Linked DNA regions of Homo sapiens. The protein of the gene in region 3 interacts with the protein of the main gene of each other region in a biochemical or structural test. Each region holds a gene or a part of one and is shown on either strand. Other genes may lie near its edges. The genes, in order: ATF3, NRL, UBR5, TOPBP1, ERG, PAIP1 and AKIRIN2.

Region 1 (2,515 bases), on a different chromosome or scaffold from region 3:
GGTTCTTTCTTCCTCCGGTACCCCTTCCCATTCTTTTCTGATATGTATTTGCAACAATGAGACACACGTTTAGACATGAAACAGATGTAACTCAAGTGAGTAACTCTCTGAGACGAGTTCTGTGGCAGAATGTTAGGGGTCAAAGGTTCAAGCTGAACAACAGGTGTATGTTTTAGGTGTTTGTACATTCAGAGAAAATAATTAAGGTATCTAGCAATTCAGTTGTACATCAAAATTCTAAACACCAAACTGTTGATCTAAAGGATATATTTGGTGCCATGTTTCAGGGTTTGTCAATGAAAAATTGAGCATCAGGTGCCCAAGACTGAGGAACAGGACTGAAAGCCAACTATCCCATCTAGTGATGCCCCAAAGAGCAAAGGATGACATCTGGAGAAGTTTAAAGCTAGGCACCCCCCATAATGGGGAGGGAAAGGCAGGGAATCGCTAGGTCTCAGCAACCGACAGATTTAAATGAACAGAAACCAGCACAACACATGTTTACCATGTCTTGGTTCCAATATTTATTATTCTGACAGGTTAGGAATACTAGGATAAATAAGTAATATTTTCTCTTACAGAAAATTGTAATGATACCATTGAGTACAATTAAACACTCTGAGAATTTCACAGAAACATCAGAATTTTAATAGACAGTAGCCAGCGTCCTTGTGGCCAGTGTGAGTGACTTCTCACAGCTGCAAACACCCTGGGCCAGATTTCTTAAAACAGCTACATGACAAAAACAATGCTATTGACATCCAATAATGCTAAAGCCTGGGTACCACCCAGGCTCCACTGACTGTGGTTTCCAAACATCTCTCCACTGACTGTGGTTTTCAACCACAAGGAAAGGAAAATGGAATATTCTTTGGCTCTTCCAGCCTAGACACAACTCCTGACCTAAGACATTGAGTGGAGAGTCCTAACCCTTTGGAAGTTGAACTTTCTGCTTTCTTCCTGTGACTTTGGAACTGAGTTTGCAACAGAGGACCTGCCATCATACTGCCCATGGATTTTGTGTTAACGCTGGGAGAATTCTGTCCTCCTCTTGCTGACAAGCTCTTCTGGCCACCTGAATATCTTGAGATACTGCACGTGGTGACAGCCCCGCCCCCCAAAACTCTTAGAAACCAGATCTGAGAAAAAGCATATAAAAGTCACATCAGTGTTGTGTGACACAAACATCGGAAGAGTACATTGCCTAGTTTTCTTGCACACACAATTTCTGGACATAACAGCATATTTGCTAGAAAGCACAACCCTGGCCGTTGCACAACTTCACTAAATGCTGTTCTCACTCCACATCCCCTACGAGTGACAATGGTAGCCACGGTGAAGGAGATGGCCCCATCCCTCCCACCCGAGGTACAGACACTGCTGCCTGAATCCTAACGGTGGGCATCCTGGTTTTTTGTAGAATCCAGATGAAAGGCGGGCAGGACACCAGCTGGGGGCCATCTGGAACATAAGAATGGCCAGTGTGTTAAGGCCTAAATCCTGGAGTTGAGGCAAAGATGCACTTGCCCTGGTCCAAGACCCACTCTGGGGCAGAATGGGAAGGGCCTGCTGAATCACTGCAGGCCCTCCCGCCTTGATGGTTCTCTGCTGCTGGGATTCTAGAGGTACACAGGAAGACAGCTCTCCAATGGCTTCAGGGTTTTGGGTATAAAATGAGGATTCAATGAGGACTCCCCAGTCGCCCCCATACCACGACTGCTTAGCTCTGCAATGTTCCTTCTTTTATCTGTTGGATAAAGAGGTTTCTCTCATCTTCTGGAGTCCTCCCATTCTGAGCCCGGACAATACACGTGGGCCGATGAAGGTTGAGCATGTATATCAAATGCTGCTTCTCGTTCTTGAGCTCCTCAATCTGAGCCTTCAGTTCAGCATTCACACTTTCCAGCTTCTCCGACTCCTGGGGGACAAGCAACAGAGGCATCAAGAAAGGAGCCAAGGGCCAGTGAGGAGGGGGTGGCCTGGGCTGCTGCCTGGATGCAGGGGTGTACCTGGGACACACCGGGGCTCATCAAGCTGCGAGAGGAAGATGGGAGATGGGAGAGCAGCACTGGGTTTAGGAAAATGCAGACCCTCTTCTTCAGAGAAACCCTGGTGATGCCACAGAGGCGGCCTGTGGCTCTGCTAATACTGAAGCTGCAGTTCAGATACCTCATTTGCATGAGTCAACAGCCCATATGCAGGTCTTCTGGACCCAAAAGGGCCTTGGGAGCTGGGGAGAAATCCAGACTTATGGTGGCTTAGTCGATTCTGAGTCACAGATCTCAATGAGAAGCTCATCTCCCCAGAAAAAATGTATATAGCAACACACAAAATTCCCTAATTTTCACTGATCCCCTGAAGCAATCAACAGAACTTTTGGGGATCTGTGGGACTTGGGCTAAGACTCTGTCATGGCCTGTCCACATTTGGAGGAGGGACACAGCCACTGGAAAGACTGCTGAGCACCACCGGCCACCCTGCTTGCCCACAAAAGCTATTTCCCCTAGTGTCTCTC
Region 2 (3,500 bases), on a different chromosome or scaffold from region 3:
CCAGCAGTGCTAGAGGAATTAAAAACACGCACACAGAAATATAGAGGTGTGGAGTGGGAAATCAGGGGTCTCACAGCCTTCAGAGCTGACAGCCTCGAACAGAGATTTACCCACGTGTTTATTGACAGCAAGTCAGTGATAAGCATTGTTTTTATAGATTAACTAAAAGTATTCCTTACGGGAAACAAAGGGATGGGCCAAAATGAAGAGATGGGCTCTGGCTGGTTATCTGCAGCAGGAGCATGTCCTTAAGGCACAGATCGCTCATGCTATTGTTTATGGTTTAAGAATACCTTTAAGCGGTTTTCTGCCCAGGGTGGGCCATGTGTTCCTTGCCCTCATTCCGGTGAACCCACAACCTTCCAGTGTGGGTGTCATGGCCATCACAAACATGTCACAGTGCTGCAGAGATTTTGCTTATGGCCAGTTTTGGGGCCAGTTTATGGCCAGATTTTGGGGGCCTATTCCCAACAAGGCAGTGTTCTAAGCACATACCTAACAACCCTTTGGGGGAATTACCATTTTACAGATGAAGTAACAAAGGCACAGAGAGGTCAAGTAATTTGTCCAAAGCTTCACAGTTAGTAAACAATAGAGCTAAGGGTTAAAGTGATAAAACTGCAAAGACATGTCTTTCATAGTAGTATAGACATCTACAACTGCAAGGACCTTAGAAGTCACCTATTCCACCGGGCGCAGTGGCTCATGCCTATAATCCCAGCACTTTGGGAGGCCAAGGAGGGCGGATCACCTGAGGTTGGGAGTTCAAGACCAGCGTGGCCAACACGGTGAAACCCCTTCTCTACAAAAATACAAAAATTAGCTGGGCATGATGGCAGGTGCCTGTAATCCCAGCTATTTAGGACAATCACTTGAACTCAGGAGGCAGAGGTTGCAGTAAGCCTAGATCATGCCATTGCACTCCAGCCTGGGGGACAGAGCAAGACTCTGTCTCAAAAAAATAAAAAAATAAAAAGTCACCTATTCCGTGTTTCTCAAACTTAAAAGTGCCTTTGAATCACCTGGAGATCTTGTTAAAATGCAGATTGTCACTCAGCAAGTCTGTAGTAGCCTCAAGATTTTGTTTTCCTTACAAGCTCCTGGGTAATGCTGATGCTGCCGGTCTGCGAACTACAGTTTAGAGTAGCCTAAATTCATCTGAAATAAACTTTGGAGAGTAATCAGGAAAACAGTGCAATGATCTCACATGAGTCAGGGGCATCAGCTTAGGATAACTTCTGTGCAATCTGGATCAGGCTGAGAGAATGTATAACCTAAGGTGGGTAGTGTGGTAGTCTTTACCCAGAAAAAGGGAACAAACTTCAACAAATAAAATGGAATTATTGGGAACTCCCTCAAAGGAAAAAACTAGAAGAGGAAACACCAAGTGTTCTCATAGGAAATGCCAGTGACCAGCCAGAATGTGTAAAAATCTAAAGGTCAGAGTGGAACAGAGGTTAGAACAAAGTTAGCAGTGGAGTATATTGTACTTTAAAACACAGCCAGCCAGGCGCGGTGGCTCACACTTTGGGAGGCCGAGGTGGGCAGATCACCTGAGGTCAGCAGTTTGAGACCAGCTAGACCAACATGGTGAAACCCCATCTCTACTAAAAATACAAAAATTAGCCAGGCATGGTGGCCCATGCCTGTAATTCCAGCTACTCAGGAAGCTGAGGCGGGAGAATCACTTGAAACTGGGAGGCTGAGGTTGCAGTGAGCTGAGATCACACCACTGCACTCCAGCCTAGGCGACAGAGTGAGACTCTGTCTCAAAAAAAAAATAAATAAATAAATAAATTTAAAAATTTAAAAATAATAATAAAACACAGCCAAATCCTTAGCTTCATAAATAGCATATGATAACTGAATACCGTCAAAAGCAACATAGCACAGGTATTAAACACATAGTAGACTTGAGCCAGAGGTGCCTCTCAGTTGCTTCATCTGTAAAATGGAAATGCCTACACTTTACAGTCTTGTTGGGAAGATTAAAAGAGTCAGTGGAATAAAGCACTCAGAACTATGCCTGGCACCGAATAACCATTTAATACATGTTAGCTATCATCACCTTTCCACTTTATAATGATTAGAGTAGGCCCTGTAAGCGTATATTACATATTGCTGACTCTACAGTTTAAAAGGAACATGAGCAATGTAAATAAAATCTAGGAGAGAAAGAAAATAGATTTAAAAATAAATCCCTCCAGCTAAGAGGCAGGGAACTGGGGTTCCAGGCACCTTTCTGGTATCTTCTAAATGCACAGGGACAAGAAAGTGTTAGCCTTAAAAATTATTTTTATTAATTAGAATAAAATGGGGCTGCATGCCCTTCAGCTCCAGATAACTGATAAAATATAGTTAACACATTATAATCTTTTTATTTTAAAATAAAACACAGATACAGAAGACCATCTAAAACAAAGTTATGGCTGAATAAACTATCATAAAGTGAACACCTTTGGAACACTACCCAGGGAAAGAAACAGAACTTTGCAGACACCAACCCAGCCCCGCCCCGCCCCGACCCTGTTGCCCATCTCTATCATAGCCACCCCTTCCTGCCATAGTGGATACTATGGTGAGTAATAATTACTTCTTTGCATTTTTTTATAGTTTGATCACCTAAATGTAGATCCTTAGACACTATAGTTTAGCTTTGCTCCCATTTAAAATTTTTTTCATATGTCTTTCAAGTCTCTATCAGTCTACAGATTCCCCCTCCATTCCTTTCTTTTCCTTCAATTTACCCATTGACGAATCCAGACTCAGATGTTCAGTGTCTAAATGCATTAACTCACTAGGGATTGCAAAACAGCCATATTTGAGTTGTCATAACATTGCAATAATTTTATAAAATGGACACTTCTATTTCATTACCCTATGGTATTGTTTATATAGAAACAGCAGGATAACTGCTTAATTCTTTATCTTTATTTATCATCTTCAAAAAAATGATTTGATTTCCTATTATCCTTTGAAAAGGTAACCAGTTAGTTACACACAAACATTATGAACTCATGGATTTAAACATACTTAGTGTTTATTAAATTGACCTTATTAAATGTTCAAATTGTCCCACATTTGGCTATGGAAGCTAGGCCAAAAAGAGCTGAGTCCTTTTGACATGATACATACTCCTTGCTTCCCGGCTATCTGGTATAAGTTGCTCCATGCTCATTGTGTTCATTTCCTTCCCCAAACCTGGAATCAGCTTTTTCTCTAAGAAGCTCTGGCTTCTTTCAGGGGGAAATGGCGTTTTAAGACCACAATCTGGATGCTAGGAGTGTTCATTGATACTGGATTGGTCATTGTTTCTAGATCTTTTTGGTGGATAGCGACAGAAGATAAAACCTCATGAACTCATACTGACATGTTCTATTCAAAATCAGGGCTAAAGGGTTTTCTGGAAACATGGTCTTGCTTTGTTGCCCAGGCTGTAATGCAGTAGCGTGATCACAGCTCACTGCAGCCTTGAATTCCTGGGCTCAAATGATCCTCTT
Region 3 (3,500 bases):
TACTTAAGCAAATTCATTTAAACATTTTAGTTAGGCCAGACTGTACTTTTCCAATACAATAAATCTAGTATTGGTTTTTTATTGTTTGTTTTTGGTTTTGTTTTTGTTTTTGAGATGGAGTCTCGCTCTGTCACCCAAGCTGGAGTGCAGTGGCGCAATCTTGGCTCACTGCAACCTCCACCTCCCAGGTTCAAGCAATTCTCCTGCCTCAGCCTCTTGAGTAGCTGCAACTACAGGCATGCACCACCATGCCCAGCTAATTTTTGTATTTTTAGTAGAGATGGGGTTTCACCATGTTGGCCAGGCTGGTCTCAAACTTCTGACCTCAGATGATCCGCCCACCTCAGCCTCCCAAAGTGCTGGGATTACAGGCATGAGCCACCGCACCTGGCATAATGCATTTAGTATTGCTTTTAGGTAACAATCTCAATAATCAAATGGTGAGATTTTTCACTGATTTGGTAATATGATGCTCCATCCCACACAACCTAATGTCTGGGGGGTTTTTTTATTGATTTTTTTGTTTTTTTGTTTTTTGGTGCACCACAATAAAATTTCAAGCAGCTTTCAACTATTATAACCTCTACTCACCACAACCTTTGTTATGCTTCATATAATCCCTGGCATATTTTCTGGCTCCTACTGAGTGAAGATATGCCTGAGTCTTTAAAACCTCAAAGTTCTTAATAAACATAATGAGCACTCACTGAATGCCAAGACTTGTGCAAAAACACACTTTCTATGCCAACACTATCCAAGAGAACTTTCAGTGATGATGGCACTGCTCTGTATTTGCACTGTCCAATGTGGTAGTGAGTAGCTACGTGGCACTACAGTGCACTTAAAATGTGACTAGCTACAGATGAAGTGACTTAAATTTTTATTTAATTTTAATCAATCTTAATTAATTTTTTTTTCCTTTTTTTTGAGACAGAGTCTTGCTCTGTCGCCCAGGCTGGAGTGCAGTGGCGCGATCTTGGCTCACTGCAACCTCTGCCTCACGGGCTCAAGCTCTGTCTCACAGGCACAAGCAATTCTCCTGCCTCAACCTCTTGAGTAGCTGGGATTACAGGCGTCCACCACCACACCCAGCTAATTTTTGTATTTTTAGTAGAGATGGGGTTTCACCATGTTGGCCAGGCTAAGGGGTCTCGAACTCCTGACCTCAAGTGATTCGCCCGCCTCAGCCACCCAAAGTGCTGGGATTACAGGCATGAGCCACTGGCCGGGCCTTAATCTTAATTTAAACAGTCATGTTTTAAAAATTAAGAATATATATTGCGGCCAGGTACATTGGCTCATGCCTGTAATCCCAGCATTTTGGTAGGCTGAGGCAGATGGATCACCTGAGGTTAGGTTCAAGAGCAGCCTAGCCAACATGACGAAACCCCATCTCTACTAAAAATACAAAAATTAGCCAGACATAGTGGTATGCGTCTGTAACTTGGGAGGCTGAGGAAGGAGAATCGCTTGAACCCAGGAGGTGGACGTTGCATTGAGCCGAGATCCGGCCACTGCCTCCAGCCTAGGAGACAAAGCAAAACTGTGTCTCAAAAAAGAAAAAAAAAAAGAACGTATATTGCTTGAAATATTCTTCATAAAAGTCATTTTCACTTATTTTTACAACCAAATGCATTGAAGATCATCTAGGATGGGCTTCCTTAACCTTAGCACAACTGACATTTTGGACCCCGTAATTCTTTGTTGTGGGGGCTATCCTATGCATTATAGGATGTTTAGCAGCATCTCTGGCCTCCATCCACTAGAGGCCAGTAGCAATGCCCCAGCTGTGACAATAAAAAATGTCTCCAGACACTGCCCAATAAGGGGAGGGGGTTGTGTGTGGAGGGTGCAAAATCACACCAAGCTGAGAAGTACTAATCTAGAACTAAGAGTCGATTCTGCTCTGAATGCTAAGGATATTCTAGGGCAACTCTTTTGAGTTCCTGCTTTGCTATCTGGAAACCAGGCAACACGTAAAAAGTTAAAAGTAACCATCTCTTCGTAATGTTTTCCGTAGAATCCACATTATAATATTGATCTTTTCCCATCTACTGTCTCAACTGTTCCTCCCTGACCTTGAGGAGAGTGCTACACCTAATTCAGAGATTGATGTGGGGGGTTCTAAGAGGTTAAATGACTAGGCTACCAGCGCAGAGTTTGAAACTCCTGTCTATAGTATCTTACCTTGTGTTATGACACCTGAAAGGGAAACTCTAAGCTTAGAGAAAAATCCTTTTGATATGACAATCTCAATAAAGACTGTTTATGACTGCACAATACGTTGTAATGCCAAAAGGCAAATCTCACAGGAAAATTCCACATACAGACAAGCAATAAGAACTGGTTTGTTTCGTAACTAACCTGCATCTTGAGGAATAATTCAGGACAAGGACAATAAATGCCATAACCACATCACCTTAAGAAGACCTATCCTAACCTAGTACCAAGAAAAGGTTAAGAGCGTCAGCCTCTGAAAAAAAGGCATAAACCCATTAGGAGCCCTGGAAAGAGCAGTTGAGGGGAAAACGGAATCAAAACACTAAGACAGGTGGCCACACTGCCTGAAGGCTGGGATGTCTGAGACAGCAGAACCATTCTGGAATACAAGCCACGTGAAGTGGAATGGAGCCCTGGACTTTAAAGAAAAGTCAGAAGACCCATCAGGTGGACCTCAGCTGTCTCTCAGTAGTTGTATCCCTGCATAAACACTGTAAATCTCTGTGCCTATTTTTTCAGCTCATTAGTGAGGCACTTTCCAGGCTATTAGTGAGGCAGGCCTTTCAGCTCTCCCCTCAAGCTCGACGAACCACATTCTTTATATTGTTTTACTGTTTCTCTGAGACAATGTTTTAAGCAGGAACGTAGTACTAACTCAAGAAATCCATTGGAAAGGAGATCAAAATGTCCAAAGTATCTGAGCACTGAATGGTTTCAATTCAGCTCAATGAATATTTGCTTGAGGGCCCAGCATTCTGTGCCAGGCACCTTGTAATCATTCTGGGAAGTCACAGCCAACATCCTCTTCTTTCCACCCCAGCCATCCCCACCTGTATTTGTCAATTTCATCCTGGCATCATTATTATTCATTATTGGCAAGTCTGAAAACACAAATTATGAAAAAAAGATACTTTTTTATGCTTTGTACATTTTAGACACTTGAGACATCAGACTATGATGCTGAACAAAATATTTGACTTTTTAAGAGGATGTGGGTAAAGAAAGAAAACGTATTTGAAGAAAACACTACTGTTTTGAGGACCAAGTTTTCTTCAGCTGAGCAATTTATTTGCAGTACCATTCTGCCTGTCTAATCTTACTACTTTTATTCCAAAGTATAAAGTCTATTTACACCCTTTTCATACATAACTATGATTATCATTTTATTTGTGACTCTCATACATTTCTCATAATAAAAAAAGTCAAGCTACAGTAGCAGTAGCTTTTTTATTGCCCCAACTTACTAAAACTTGGTAAAGTTTTTATCTTTAGATGAAAAT
Region 4 (3,500 bases), on a different chromosome or scaffold from region 3:
TGGGCAACATAGTGAGACCTTGTCTCTACAAAAAAATTTTAAAAATTAGCCAGGTGTAGTGGCACATGCCTGTAGTTCTAACTGCTCGGGAGACTGAGGGGTGGCTGATGCCCAGGAGTTCAAGGTTACAGGAAGTTATGATTGTGCCACTGCATCCCAGCCTGGGCAACAGAGTGAGACCCTAACTCAAAAAAATTAAAAAAAAAAAATCCAATAAGTTGTTCAGAAACTAAGTGCTCTCGAAATATAGCAGATGAAAAGATTAATGTAGTTAGGAGGGTTCAGAGAAGAGTTAAAACCTGAAATGAACTTTTAAAAGATAACAGAGGAAGATACCTTGCAGGCAGAGGGACTCTCGCAGCCAAAGGATGGACATGGTCTAGTAAGTGCATCTACTTAGCTAGAGTGGAGGGTTTACATAGATAGTAAGGAGCAAGCCCAACTCTGAAGGGTCTTCAAAGTCAGGCTAGGAAATGCTAATGTATATCATCTACTGCATGTATTATATAATAAAGACGTACCCGACAACCATCTAATAAATCTTCAGGTGCTTGAAATGCACTGACATCCAGATTTTCTAGATTTTCAAGTGTAGGCTCCAGTTTGCTGTTAAGTGAATTACATATTGATTCACTTACGCAACTTGCATTTATGTTGGAAATATTGCTGACATCTGAAAGAGTACGACCTACATATTTTGAAAACGTATAAATTTATGGGAGATAAAATAATCATGATTACATATTGTCTATGGATTAACTTTTCTTACAAATATAGGGCAATAAACAACTTCCAAAGTAAGATTCAGGGGTGTTTACTGAAATCTTAGTGGCAAAGTATAAAAAGGGAAAATGAAATTAATTAAGCCTCCTATCTTATTTAAATGAAAATAGATTTAACACATTTTCTTAATAGTGTCTTGTTTCCCATAAAAATCTGAAGTTGCTGACTTTAAGGTCCAAGAAGCTTACATTTGAAAAAATATTTTAAACATTTTGCCAACACGACACCTACAAAATAGAAATGGTTTTAATTTTTATACAAATACAGATGATCTATAACTGCAGCAAAACTGTAAATTAAGGAAAGATTAATATATGCATGTAATGTTTAAAAGATTAATACTTTTATCTTAAGCCCCCAGCTACCATTGTTCTTAATTTCTTTGATCATCTTTTGCATTACAACAGAGTATAAAAGACAGCATTCATTCATTCTAAAAGAAAATTACGAACAGTTCAGTGCTAACTTTTTATACAATTTGACTATTATACAATTATGCCTAGAAGCACAGCAAACAAGAAAAAGAAATTCCCTATCTCAGTGATCCTATTAACATACTGATTATTACATAGAAATATGACTGTCTTCAGAATAATTATTTTAATCTCAATGAGACTCACTATCAATTGTGTTGATCTGGCTGGTAGGAGTTGAAGAATTGGGCATAGTCTTTGCTTCTGGTCTAGGTTCTGTCTTGTATATGGATTCATCCTGACAAAAACCTTTCTCAATACTGTCAAAAAACCACTGTGTGGTCACACAGTGTACATTCCATCTCTTGGCACACTCATACTTCTGACCTGTGGCGTTCATTAAGAAAGAAATAGAGAAAATAGGAGAAACCAAGAAATGAAAACCATTACAATCTATCTTTGCAGAAATATTCAAATTATAACAGGTTAATATTTTTTTTTTTTTTTTGAGATGGAGTCTCACTCTGTTGCCCAGGCTGGAGTACAGTGGTGAGATCTTGGCTCACTGCAACCTCCACCTCCCTCCTGATCAAGCGATTCTCCTGCCTCAGCCTCCTGAATAGCTAGGATTACAGACGTGTGCCACCATGTCTGGCTAATTTTTTTGTATTTTTAGTAGACACGGGGTTTCACCATGTTGGCTAGGCTGGTCTCAAACTCCTGACCTCAGGTGATTCGCCTGCCTTGGCCTCCCAAAATGCTGGGATTACAAGCGTGAGCAACCGCGCCCGGCTATAACAGGTTATTTCAAAAACCTATCAACAAAATTAAAGTTACCAGTACTTACTCTTAAACAGTATGCTACACAGTTTATTACAAAGTAGTATTTTAGCTTATTGCCTAATTATATTTTCTATGTGTAGTATAAATACATATGCCATGTGAGAGGTTTTATCTTTTATACAAACTGCAGGAAGACAGAAGCAACTGTGGGGTAACTTAATTAATATTGGACTTGGGTTTGCATATAGGCTCCATCACTTAATTTCTTTAAACCAGCTTGTACAATGTGAAAATTGTAAATTTGTGCTATATAATAAATCCCAACTTTGAACAGACTATTCCAATGTCAACAGGCTTCTACTTAAAGTCCAGGATAGATAAGCCAAAAGATAAATTATATTGAAAATATGTATCTTTTATTACCTTAAAAATCTTCAACACAATGTATTTTGAAGCAGTATCACAGAGGAATTGAGGTCAATATGTCACATGAAAGGTTTTTTGGCATTCTTGAGAGAATCAACAATGAACTGTCTTCAGATTCAGAAAAAGAACAGCAGTATCAACTCTACTCACAGTGATCCTATCACAATCAGCCATACTCAAAGTTCTGACTTAAGGACAATTACCATTTAATCGTAATTTCTTCTCAATCTAGATAGCTTAGTAAAACACAGTATACATATAAAGGGCAATAATAAAAACATTAACAAAACTCATCTTTTATCAATTTGTGTATATTTTAAGAGTGCTGATAAAAAATTATCCAGAATAATGTTATGTAACACCAAACTTAATAGCAATTTTAAAGAATTTTTCTTGTTCGTAATGTCTTTTTCATTTTTTACTGCCTCATGTGCCGCAAGGTGTGTCTTCCAGTTAAAACTTTGCAAGATGTTAGAGAAAACATCTTTGCAAGATGTTAGAGAAAACAGTATCAAACTAGATTAATGACATGTCAGAAGTAAAAGCTGTTCTGTAAAGATTTTAAAATATTAAATATTAGTGGCTGGGCACGGTGGCTCATGCCTGTAATCCCAGGACTTTGGGAGGTTGAGGTGGGAAGATCAATTGAGGTCAGTTAGAGACCAGTCTGGCCAACATGGTGAAAGCCCGTCTCTACTAAAAATAAAAAGTTATTCAGGCGTGGTGGCAGGTGCCTGTAATCCCGCTACTCGGGAAGCTGAGTTGGGAGAATCGCTTGATCAAGGGAGGCAGAGGTTGCAGTGAGCTGAGATTGTGCCACTGCCCTCCAGCCTGGGCAATAGAGCAAGACTCTGTCTCAAAATAAATAAATAAATAAATAAAAATAAAATATTAAATACTAGAGAAAATGTTTCATTTGTCCCTTTGTGAAACACAGTTTTACCTTTTGGTTCTTGCACAATGAGGTGTGTACATTCATTCATTTTCAATTGTCCCATGTATTGACCTCCATGCTTAACTGTGAGTTGCTGAACTTCTTTCCTGTCTAAGCCACATAAGCCAGTCACACAGATTATGCAACCAAGAAAAATAGGA
Region 5 (3,500 bases), on a different chromosome or scaffold from region 3:
GTTTTATTTTTCAACTTGTATAAAAACCCATAATATATTTTACAGAGCTTTTGGAAAGTAGTATCAAGCAATTATAAGTATTTAGCCTAAGAGTATATGGATTTTATTAATAATTAATCCACATCTCTATTCAAATGCATTTTCCCTCTCTCTCTTTTGACCAAAACTCATGCTGTTAGCTGAGAAAATTCCCTTTTCATAGTTCAGTCCATTTGGAATTTGTTGTCTTGTTCATTGGTTTCTTCCGTGTTTAACAATAGCAAAATTTAATATATTTGGAGCTTTTTTGAAACTTTCACTCAATGGTTAAAGAACTCATAAATAAATGTGAAATTATCAGAAAATGTGCATAGCTCAAAGGTGTTTCCTAAGAAGGGGAAGTAACTTCCTCTAAGTTATCTGTTATTTCTGGCCACAAGGTCACTAATAGGCTGATGTGTGCAACCAAAATTATTGAAAAAGTGTACTACCAACTCGAAGCAGGTTTTTTAAAACTTCAGATTAAAAAGACAATGTGTTGAATATAGAAGACCATGATAAATGAGCAATTTCATTGTAATACTCAAACCGGGACTCACTCACATTTTATATTTTAAAATAAAATGGTAAATATTGGGAAAATTGCGTATTTCTATGTGAGGGCTGATCGTGAGTTAACTGGCTGACTTGCAAGGCTTTCTGGCACTTCCCGTCTCCCTCCCTAGCCCGAGTGATTGTGGAGGGTCCCTGCAGCTAACAGAGTGGGGTGAGCAGCCGGTGGCCATGCTTCCGGAACTCTCTCCATCAGGAAGGAGCAGATGGATGTGAACCAGGAACACATTCATCCACAGAAAACCCAGCCTCTGCTGTGAGCGGGGGGCGAGGGAGGAAGGTTAGCCAGGATGAGGCACGGTGTTAAACCCTACTTAGGCTCAGGCAAAATAAATACATAACTAAGTCAAATGTAGAGGCAACGGTTAGAGATAGAAAACAGGCATTTGGTTAGTGACTAATTTCATATTCTCCAAAATTATAGCAGAGGTTCCCTCTGAACAAAAGCTCTCAAAATGTTACAGAAATTCCCTCCTGCCTTTTGCAAACATACAAAGTCTGTAGGAAAACAAATCAAATAGCCTAAAAGTTTATTGGAAAGGAAAAAGAAAATTCCAACTTATCCTAGCAAATATTTCTTTAAGAATAAAAATGGAAAAAATTAAAGGAGGTTGCTAAGGGCCCTTTTATATCGAACATGCTTTTAGTGTCTACAGAGTCAGCACAGCGAATATATTGGGACCAACAGAAGAAGACTGTAATCCGGCAAATGTGAGCTAAGTTATGGCTAAAGGCAAATTCTGCACGTCTCCTGGTTAAAAAGGAACCCTTTGATAATCAAAGTGGGGTGCTTGGGAAGCGCTCAGAAAACCAAAGGGCTTCACCTTCCTTTAGGCTGTGGTACATTCCTAAGTATCCGAAAGTATTCTGAATCATCTACCTGCGTTCTGTCTTCCTGGCACGCGCTGACTGGTTTCCCATGAAAGCATGCAACCTGTACGTAAGACCCTACGCTCTTGCTGGGAGGCAGGGGCGGGGCCAGCATTACCTGTGTTTCTAGCATGCATTAACCGTGGAGAGTTTTGTAAGGCTTTATCAACATCATCTGAAGTCAAATGTGGAAGAGGAGCTACAAAACAAAACAAAAAGCGACATCAAAATGAAAAAAAAAAGAGAGAGAGAGAAAGAGAATTACCTTTCTTACAAAAAAAAAAAAAAAAAAAGAAAGAAAAAGAAAGAAAGAAAACCGTTCCCCCACTCCCACACTAACATCATGGGAAGCTTATAACTATTTCCAGCAACCTGCTACTTGTTAGCATGTTAAAACCTACATGGGGGCCCGTCTTTAATTCAGGGAAGAAGTGGTTGGGATGCCAGGCAAAGCAATGGAGGAGAATTTATCCACCTCACTGTCTGTCACACTACTTCCTTCTCACCATGCTGGACGTTGTAGAAATTAAAGCATGCAGCAAACATTCTGGATTCATGCCAACATGCCATCCCTTTCTGTCAGGTTAAGCCGAATCACATGATACAAAGTGAAAACTTCCCTTGTTCTGTGCTCAGGTTAGAATATAAAGTGGGGCTTCATGTAGCTTTAGGGAGAATAATCCCCCTAATTCCTACGAAAGAGAAGCCTTAATGATTCTATTTCGATTCGGGGTATCATGGAGACTTAACTAATGTGTGACCAGTTAACGCTTCCTTTCCCCTTTGACATTCCATCTTCTTGGTCGCAGGACCCTGGAGGAGGCAGCTGAGTGTTGAAGTGAATTTTGGCTTCTCCTGAGAGCGCTGACTACTTCTCATCAGGTGATGTGGCCAGGGTGTTGCTCCCCTAAGTCATCACATACCAAGCATGTGGCTCCCTCGGATCCCCAGTGGGAACTGGGCGAGGGCAGGAGGATGCTGTCGACACACCTGGTTGAACCCTCTGAAGCTCAGGTCATAAGAACCATAGCCACAGCCATCTATCCTTGGAGGAAGGGGGAGCTTACTCTCTCTGAGGTAGTGGAGATGTGAGAGAAGGATGTCGGCGTTGTAGCTGGGGGTGAGCCTCTGGAAGTCGTCCTTGGTCATCTTGCACAGTTCCTTCCCATCGATGTTCTGGAATAACAAGATGTTGACGTCTGGAAGGCCATATTCTTTCACCGCCCACTCCAGCCACTGCCGCACATGGTCTGTACTCCATAGCGTAGGATCTGAAAGGGGTGGGAACACATTCAGTCAATTCCTGAAGCCAGGGATCTTCATCTTGGGGTAGATCCCCATCCACGTGGGATTTCTGACCAGCTGCCTTCCACAAGCACAGCCTCCAGCCAGCCTCCCTGGCTACCCAGGAGAACATTTTGGGGGAAAGACAAAAGCTGCCTCACATCCATAGATCATTGTCTTTAAAGTGAATAGTTCTGGAATCTTGGGATTATTCACATCACATGCCCTTGTTTTTGCTCAATCTAAAGTTTCCTGTAGGCATAAGATTTTAAAAATTCTTTTTTCTCATTTATGTTCAATTTTATTTATTTATTTTAAAATGAGTAAGAATAAGAGGAAACTTCTTTTCCTTAGAAAACTACTGGTATATTTATATATATTTATATGGAAATAAGAGTAAGCCACACATATCAGGAAGGTGCTAATTACAGATCACAACAACAACAAAAATAATAATAACAGTATTTATGCAAAATACTGAAAAATACTGACCACAGAATCGGAAATGAAATATAGATACACCAAGACTCTAGCCCCTCCTATGAGCCAGCGTTCCTCATAGAGAGCTGTCAGTTCCAGACTTTTCCTGCAGGGTGTTTGGTTTTGCAATTAACCAGCACCTGCAGGAGTGGGGTTGGTGAGTGGTTTTTGCATTCCACAGCTGGCCATGGCGAGCACAAACACCCCACAGGATGCAGGCCACGTCGTCACACTCCAGTGCTACCTATGGGACAGGGAGAGCAGGGCCCGGGGGA
Region 6 (3,500 bases), on a different chromosome or scaffold from region 3:
ATGTTAATGACCAATATGCTGGGATAAAAACTAAATGTTGTATAATGAAACAATTTCAACTGACTAAATTAGACTTTCAAGGAATTAAGATGAAATCCTTAAATTTTAAAAGAAAGCAAAGGCAAGTAGAAATGCTAAGACAAGACATTTTATGGTTTGGCTTTCTTTTTTTTAAAGACCTACTTATGAGGCAAGCAAATTCTCTCAATTTTTTTCCTCCCCTACTCTAATACTACTATTCAATTCAACACATAGGGGAAAAGAATTGCAGTCTTTTCTGGTACTGCTAATTTCAGAGCCTGCAAAACAAGGGGCAGGGTTTTGGTGGGGGTGACACTTATGTAGCCTTCGTTTTCAGTGCCCATATCACCTTCTATACTATACTGCTTGTATAGAGCTTTGGCTAAACAGGTGAATATTACCTATATTGAATCTTGACTACACATGTGAACTTGCAATCCTGTCTGGCTCTACCCTTGGATCCCTAACTATAGGAGTTTTATACAAGACAGACTTAGAACTCCCGGAAACTATAAAGAGTAAGTGTGGAGGCAGGTGATCATGAATCTGGTCTCCCTCAAGGAGTAGCCACTATCCTTGGGCTTCAAGGAAGCTATCTGAAGGTCACTGCATGCTATAAGCCAACATACCTGTTGATAGATGAGTTCCACAAGTTCTTGCAAAGCATCATCTGTTGTAACACAACCATTCAGGGTCTCTGCAAACTGTTCAATTTCAGTTTCAAAACTGCCAGGCTGCTCTGTAAGATGATTCAAAAAATCCTGAACATATTCTGATAGAGTAGGATAATCCTCACAACCATCCTCATAGGATTCCTACGGATCAAAAATGAAAAAACAATTTTAATCTATGCAACTGGCTAAAACACACAAGGTGGTATGTCTCTAGCACAAATGCTTTTTTAAAGATCCCTCACATGATAAAAATTTATGTTCATCAATAAAATTGTCAATTGAGCTATTTTTCTTCCTTGCCTAAAAGCTGAAGTGTTATAATTAACAGCAGAAAGGTTCTGTTCAGCTAAACAGGGAATTGTCTTCTCATTCTGGGTCAACTTCTAAGATGGCTGAGGAATAAAGTTTAAACCAATATTTCACTACAATGCCAATATAAAAATTAAGAATCTGATCCACTTACGAATGAAATAAGATCTAGGATTTGCTTCAAAGTGGGAGGGGAAGTATGGACTAGGGATATAAAAACAAGAACGGCCACATGTAGCTTACTGTTGAGGCCATGAGGATTCATTATACCATTCTCTGTATTTCTGCAAATGTTGACAACTTTTTTATTGGGGAAAAAAAAAACAAAAACAAAAACCTAATAAGGTTTATCATCTGTTAATCCCCAAGGGCAAAGAAATGCATAAAGCTGCTCGAGTAACTAAAATTTCATCACGGTATAAATGGAAGGAGACCTTTTGGCTGCTACATCCAGGTTGCTAACACAACCTTGATAGCAGCAGTAGTTTCCAGCTAATGTTGTTTCCACCACTGTCACCTTTGGCAGTTTCCAACCTTTTCATTAATGGCAGAAGGCTGAGTGGGCGAGTTTTACAAAAGATAATAGACTTGAGCAACAACTTTCACATCTCAATGCCTGGAATACCACCCGAAGCGCTTTAAAGTTTACCAAACAGTTAAAATCTAATAATAACTACACTGCTTGTATGAAATTTAACCTTCTCCAAACAGAGTAAATGAAAAGCCACATAAAAAAGTTATGACTACAAAACAGAAGCATTTTGTGAAGGGGTTAAGTTCTAAAGTCAGTGAGTGCATAGAAGAAAAAAAAAGTCATACATGGTCAAAACACCCTTAGAAATGCTCCATGTTGGAGAAAGACAGTCTTTTTTTTTCTTTGAGACAGTCTTGTTCTGTCGCCCAGGCTGGAGTGCAGTGGTGCAATCTTGGCTCACTGCAACCTCCGCCTCCCGGGTTCAAGCTATTCCTGTACCTCAGCCTCTCAAGTAGCTGGGATTACAGGCATGCACCACCATGCCTGGCTAATTTTTGTATTTTTAGTAGAGACAGGGTTTCACCATGTTGGCCAGGCTGGTCTCAAACTCTGACTTCAGGTGATTCCCCCACCTTGGCCTCCCAAAGTGCTGGGATTACAGGCCACTGCGCCTGGCCCAGGACACAGTCTTAGGAGAAAGACCAACATTGCCAATTGTCCACTTGTCCCTTTACTGTTGGTGCTTGATATGGTTTGGCTGTGTCCCCACCTAAATCTCAACTTGAATTGTATCTCCCAGAATTCCCATGTGTTGTGGGAGGGACCCAGGAGGGAGGTAACTGAATCAATGGGGCCAGTCTTTCCGGTGCTATTCTTGTCATAGTGAATACGTCTCACGAGATCTGATGGGTTTATCAGGGGTTTCCGCTTTTGCTTCTTCCTCATTTTTCTCTTGCTGCGGCCACGTAAGATGTGCCTTTCACCTCCCGCCATGATTCTGAGGCTTTCCCAGCCTTGTGGAACTGTAAGTCCAATTAAATCTCTTTTTCTTCCCAGTCTCGGGTATGTCTTTGTCAGCAGCATGAAAATGGACCACTATAGTGCTACCACTTCAAATAACCATCATTTGGAGGTCATGTTTTACACTTTTTATTTTATCTTTATTTTTTATTTTTATTTTTGAGATGGAGTCTCGCTCTGTCACCCAGGCTGGAGTACAGTGGCAAGATCTTGGCTCACTGCAACCTCTGCCTCCCAGGTTCAAGCAATTCTCCTGCCTCAGCCTCCCAGAGTAGCTGGGACTACAGGCATGTACCACCAGGCCCAGCTAATTTTTTTTGTATTTTTAGAGGAGATGGGGTTTCACCATGTTGATCAGGATGGTCTCAAACTCCTGACCTCAAATGATCCACCCAACTCGGCCTCCCAAAGCGCTGGGATTACAGGCGAGAGCCACCATGCCCGGCCTATGTATCTTCAGAGACTGAAGTGATACTTAGCAAAAGTTGCATGTACTATGAGAGGCAGTCAGGAAGTAAAACCAGCTGCAGAAATAGCAGATTCATGTGCCTTTTTCATTCACATATAGTGTTCATTGAATAGAAGGATAAACTCTAATACATTAGATTTTTGTCACGCATTTGAATTCAAGTTAAACATTCTACTATAATAGGAGGTATTAATGTTGATGCATTTATTTACTAATCATAAATATTATCACTGTGACTCTGAGGATTAAGTGAATTAATCAAATTCACCTAGATTGGTGAAGAGCACATAGTAAAGCACAGAATGTTCAACAAATGAATTACATTTTAAATTTCTAGGAGAATACTGAGTCATATTCCAAATGCAACAGCCATGTATTCATACATAAAGGGACTAAAGTATAAAAAGCATCCAAAATGAATGATAAAAAGCTGTATTTCTTGGCACCTAGGATGGTACTCCAGTTAATAAGCTAATAGCCACCAGCTGCATATATGATATGTGATAGACACCATAAGGGCTTTGCCTGCATC
Region 7 (3,500 bases), on a different chromosome or scaffold from region 3:
GGCGTGGTGCTCACCGCCTGTAATCAGGCCGAGGTGGGCGGATCACCTGAGGTCAGGAGTTTGAAACCAGCCTGGCCAACATGGTGAAACCCTGCCTCTACTAAAAATACATAAAAAAATTAGCCAGGCATGGTGGCGGGCACCTGTAATCCCAGCTACTCGGGAGGCTGAGGCAGGAGAATCACTTGAACCCGGGAGGCGGAGGTTTCAGTGAGCCGAGATCACGCCATTGCACTCCAGCCTGGGCAAAGAGAGTGAAACTCCATCTCAAAAAAATAAAAACAAAAAATTAAAAATTAAATTTAAAAAAGACATAAAACTTAAACATTACAATGATGGGTCCCATTACAAAACATCTTATCTCCTTTCTGGAAAATACCATACCATGAAGTATTTTAGTGACTAAATTACTTTCCTACACTAGGAATGAAGAACACCTCAGGTCTAAATTTAATTTTATTTAGTCCCAGAATAACAAATCATTATGCCTGTAAAAAGACACTTAGTCTTCAAAGCCATACCATTAATATCTTAAGAGCCTACACACAATGAACTGGTAATTATTCTACCATCATTTCACACCTTTAGAAAGGGGTTTTCCTTTATTGAAAAAGAAAATACGCCGGGCATGGTGGCTCACGCCTGTATTACCAGCACTTTGGGAGGCCGAGGCAGGCGGATCACCTGAGGTCAGAAGTTCAAGACCAGCCTGACCAACATGGAGAAACTTAGTCTCTACTAAAAATACAAAATTAGCCAGGCGTGGTGGCACATGCCTGTAATCCCAGCTACTTAGGAGGCTGAGGCAGGAGAATCGCTTGAACACAGGAGGCGGAGGTTGCAGTGAGCCGAGATCATGCCGTTGCACTCCAGCCTAGGCAACAAGAGTGAAACTTCATCTCAGAAAAAAAAAAAAAAAAAGAAATTTCATGTTGGCACAATAAATTTTTATGTTTAAAAAAAGAAGGTACAGCATGAATCCTTTTTAGAAAAGATTAAAAAACATTCTGGAACCTAGCTTGTGTGGTGGCTCATACCTGTAATCCCAGTACTTTCTGGGAGGCCGAAGCAGGTGGAACCCTTGAGCTAAAGGCCAGCCTGCGCAACATGGCAAACCATGTCTCTAATAAAAATACAAAGATTGGCTGGGAGTGGTGGCACGTGCCTGTAGTTCTAGCTACAGGCTAGGCTGAGGTGGAGGTTGCAGTGAGCCAAGATCTCACCACTGTACTCCAGCCTGGGCAACGGAGTGAGACCCTGTCTCAAAAACAAAACAAAACAAAACAAGACATTCTGAAATCTACTTTGCTGGAGAAGCATAAATGATTCTAAAGGTTTTTGAACTCATTGACCACTAATTCCCATTAAGTTAACAACAATTCGCATGGAAAAATAAGCTCAAGCATTGAGCTGATAATGCTATGCTCAAAACTCTATACCATAGAACTACACTGTCATCACACTAAGAATCCCAAAGCAGCTGCAACATCAGCATCTGTCAATTTCAAATATTCCTTCAGCATTTTTATACCTATTAGGATATTTTTAATAAAAGAGAAAATATTTTGTAGTAATAACATCTACTGTAATACTGCTAAAAGTATTTTATACATATTCAAGTGCACCATTCGTTACCAATTGTTTCTTCATCTCGCTCTGTGAATTTGCCCTGGTACCACCAATATTACTTACTCTCTTAACTTGCTCCTTATAACCTGCATGGCAGGAGCTAGTTAACTATGCTTATTAGAACTGTGCATACCACAATAACAAAGCCCACCAGCTTTATTCCATAATTATCCAAAGCCATCTTAATTTACTTTCACATTCCCAGCTTTGTTACTTAAGACTGCCAGTTAACTGATCTTCTAAGTAAAGTGAGTAAGGAAATAATGATCTTGGTTTCCTGCTAATACAGTCTAGTGCCCAACCCTCACCTCTATGTTTCAACCACTAATACCTGGCCCCCACAATGGGCATGGCAGTATTTAGTTTTGAACAAGTTCATGTTTCCTAATCTAATTTTATTTGACTATGTTATGGTCTTTGATTTTTTTTTTTTTTTTTTTTTTGAGTCTCATTCTGTCACCCAGGTTGGAGTGCAATGGCGCGATCTCTGCTCACTGCAAGCTCTGCCTCCCGGGTTCATGCCATTCTCCTACCTCAGTAGCTGAGACTACAGGCGCCTGCCACCATGCCTAGCTAATTTTTTGGATTTTAGTAGAGACGGGGTTTCACTGTGTTAGCCAGGATGTTCTCGATATCCTGACCTCGTGATAAACCTGCCTTGGCCTCCCAAAGTGCTGGGATTACAGGCATGAGCCACCGCGCCCAGCCGCAAATTTTTTTATTCTGCCAGGTTTTCCTTCCCTTGCTAGGGGGAGGAGAGAAAGCGTTGAACAAAGGCAACTGTTGTCACAAGAAAAGCTATTTTCCTGAGAACTTTACTAAAGATAAGAGCCACTATTGATGGCTCTCTCTCAGCAAAACCTTCAACTTTCTCTTTGCTTCAAGTAGCCCTTATTCCCCGCCCCCCCCCTTTTTTTTTTTTTTAAAAAAAAGGAAGGTTATTTGCAAACATTCCCCCCAACAAAAAGTAGGTAAAAACAGATACAGGATCAAAAAATAATAATAATCCACCTTTAGAAATCTAGCCCAATAAGACAAGTGTGTGAGGCAGGGTATGTATACAGGGATAGTTCTTAAAATACTATACCAGCAAAACTTCTAAGTTGAATTATCTATCATTAAGTGTTCAGTCATGACAAGGTACATCTATACCTAACAAAGGAGCATACAGTATTGTTATTATTTTTTTTTTTGAGACAAAGTCTCACTCTGTCGCCCAAGCTGGAGTGCAGTGGCATGATCTCAGCTCACTGCAACCTCCGCCTCCTGGGTTCAAGTGATTCTCATGCCTCAGGCTCCCGAGGGGCTGGGACTACAGGCGCGTGCCACCACGCCCAGCTAATTTTTCTATTTTCAGTAGAGACAGAGTTTTGCCATGTTGGCCAGGCTGGTCTCAAACTCCTGACCTCAAGTGACCTGTCTACCTCGCTCGGCCTCCCCAAGTGCTGGGATTACAGGCATGAGCCACCGTGCCTGGCCTATTGTTAATTTTTTTTAATAAAGGCTACAAATCATAGTACTTACAGGATGTCCACTTTGGGGATATTATATGCAGGTGGTTGTCTCTGGTTAGTGGGAATCCAGTGGTAACTCCTTATTTTGTACCATATTATTTTTTAAGATGTCATGCATTACTTGTATAAATGTTTTTTTAAAACTCAGAGGAGATACAGTAGCTTAAATGACTAAAGACAACTTGGATTAGACTTTTCCCACTCTAAATAATAAACTTTGTAAATGACAAGAAATGTTATTACCTGGTGAAGCTGGTCCACTGAGGAGAAATGCATGTGGCTGTGCATCAGAAGTACAACACGGATCTGTCTGTTGGAAACTCGTTTCTAAATGTCTTCTCTTCTGCATTCGTTTAT

The links.
Region 1: of the proteins of UBR5 (region 3) and ATF3, one has a biochemical effect on the other in vitro, tested with the Homo sapiens proteins (one study listed by BioGRID).
Region 2: of the proteins of UBR5 (region 3) and NRL, one has a biochemical effect on the other in vitro, tested with the Homo sapiens proteins (one study listed by BioGRID).
Region 4: of the proteins of UBR5 (region 3) and TOPBP1, one has a biochemical effect on the other in vitro, tested with the Homo sapiens proteins (one study listed by BioGRID).
Region 5: the proteins of UBR5 (region 3) and ERG form a complex in vitro, tested with the Homo sapiens proteins (one large-scale study listed by BioGRID).
Region 6: the proteins of UBR5 (region 3) and PAIP1 form a complex in vitro, tested with the Homo sapiens proteins (one study listed by BioGRID).
Region 7: of the proteins of UBR5 (region 3) and AKIRIN2, one has a biochemical effect on the other in vitro, tested with the Homo sapiens proteins (one study listed by BioGRID).

What each region holds. Positions count from the first base shown.
Region 1 is NC_000001.11:212,618,761-212,621,275, reverse strand, and holds the end of ATF3 (cyclic AMP-dependent transcription factor ATF-3), read right to left. Parts: intron 2,305-2,515; exon of another isoform or gene 2,231-2,304; coding exon of another isoform or gene 2,010-2,230; exon of another isoform or gene 1,919-2,009; coding exon 1,721-1,918; 3' UTR 501-1,720; downstream 1-500.
Region 2 is NC_000014.9:24,104,950-24,108,449, forward strand, and holds part of NRL (neural retina-specific leucine zipper protein), read right to left. Parts: intron 1-3,500. UniProt on the Homo sapiens protein: Acts as a transcriptional activator which regulates the expression of several rod-specific genes, including RHO and PDE6B. Also functions as a transcriptional coactivator, stimulating transcription mediated by the transcription factor CRX and NR2E3.
Region 3 is NC_000008.11:102,406,201-102,409,700, forward strand, and holds part of UBR5 (E3 ubiquitin-protein ligase UBR5), read right to left. Parts: intron 1-3,500. UniProt on the Homo sapiens protein: E3 ubiquitin-protein ligase involved in different protein quality control pathways in the cytoplasm and nucleus. Mainly acts as a ubiquitin chain elongator that extends pre-ubiquitinated substrates.
Region 4 is NC_000003.12:133,651,942-133,655,441, forward strand, and holds part of TOPBP1 (DNA topoisomerase 2-binding protein 1), read right to left. Parts: coding exon 3,349-3,500; intron 1,584-3,348; coding exon 1,404-1,583; intron 689-1,403; coding exon 522-688; intron 1-521. UniProt on the Homo sapiens protein: Scaffold protein that acts as a key protein-protein adapter in DNA replication and DNA repair. Composed of multiple BRCT domains, which specifically recognize and bind phosphorylated proteins, bringing proteins together into functional combinations.
Region 5 is NC_000021.9:38,400,978-38,404,477, forward strand, and holds part of ERG (transcriptional regulator ERG), read right to left. Parts: intron 2,733-3,500; coding exon 2,529-2,732; intron 1,661-2,528; coding exon 1,580-1,660; intron 1-1,579. UniProt on the Homo sapiens protein: Transcriptional regulator. May participate in transcriptional regulation through the recruitment of SETDB1 histone methyltransferase and subsequent modification of local chromatin structure.
Region 6 is NC_000005.10:43,547,078-43,550,577, forward strand, and holds part of PAIP1 (polyadenylate-binding protein-interacting protein 1), read right to left. Parts: intron 837-3,500; coding exon 651-836; intron 1-650. UniProt on the Homo sapiens protein: Acts as a coactivator in the regulation of translation initiation of poly(A)-containing mRNAs. Its stimulatory activity on translation is mediated via its action on PABPC1. Competes with PAIP2 for binding to PABPC1.
Region 7 is NC_000006.12:87,678,234-87,681,733, forward strand, and holds part of AKIRIN2 (akirin-2), read right to left. Parts: coding exon 3,387-3,500; intron 1-3,386. UniProt on the Homo sapiens protein: Molecular adapter that acts as a bridge between a variety of multiprotein complexes, and which is involved in embryonic development, immunity, myogenesis and brain development.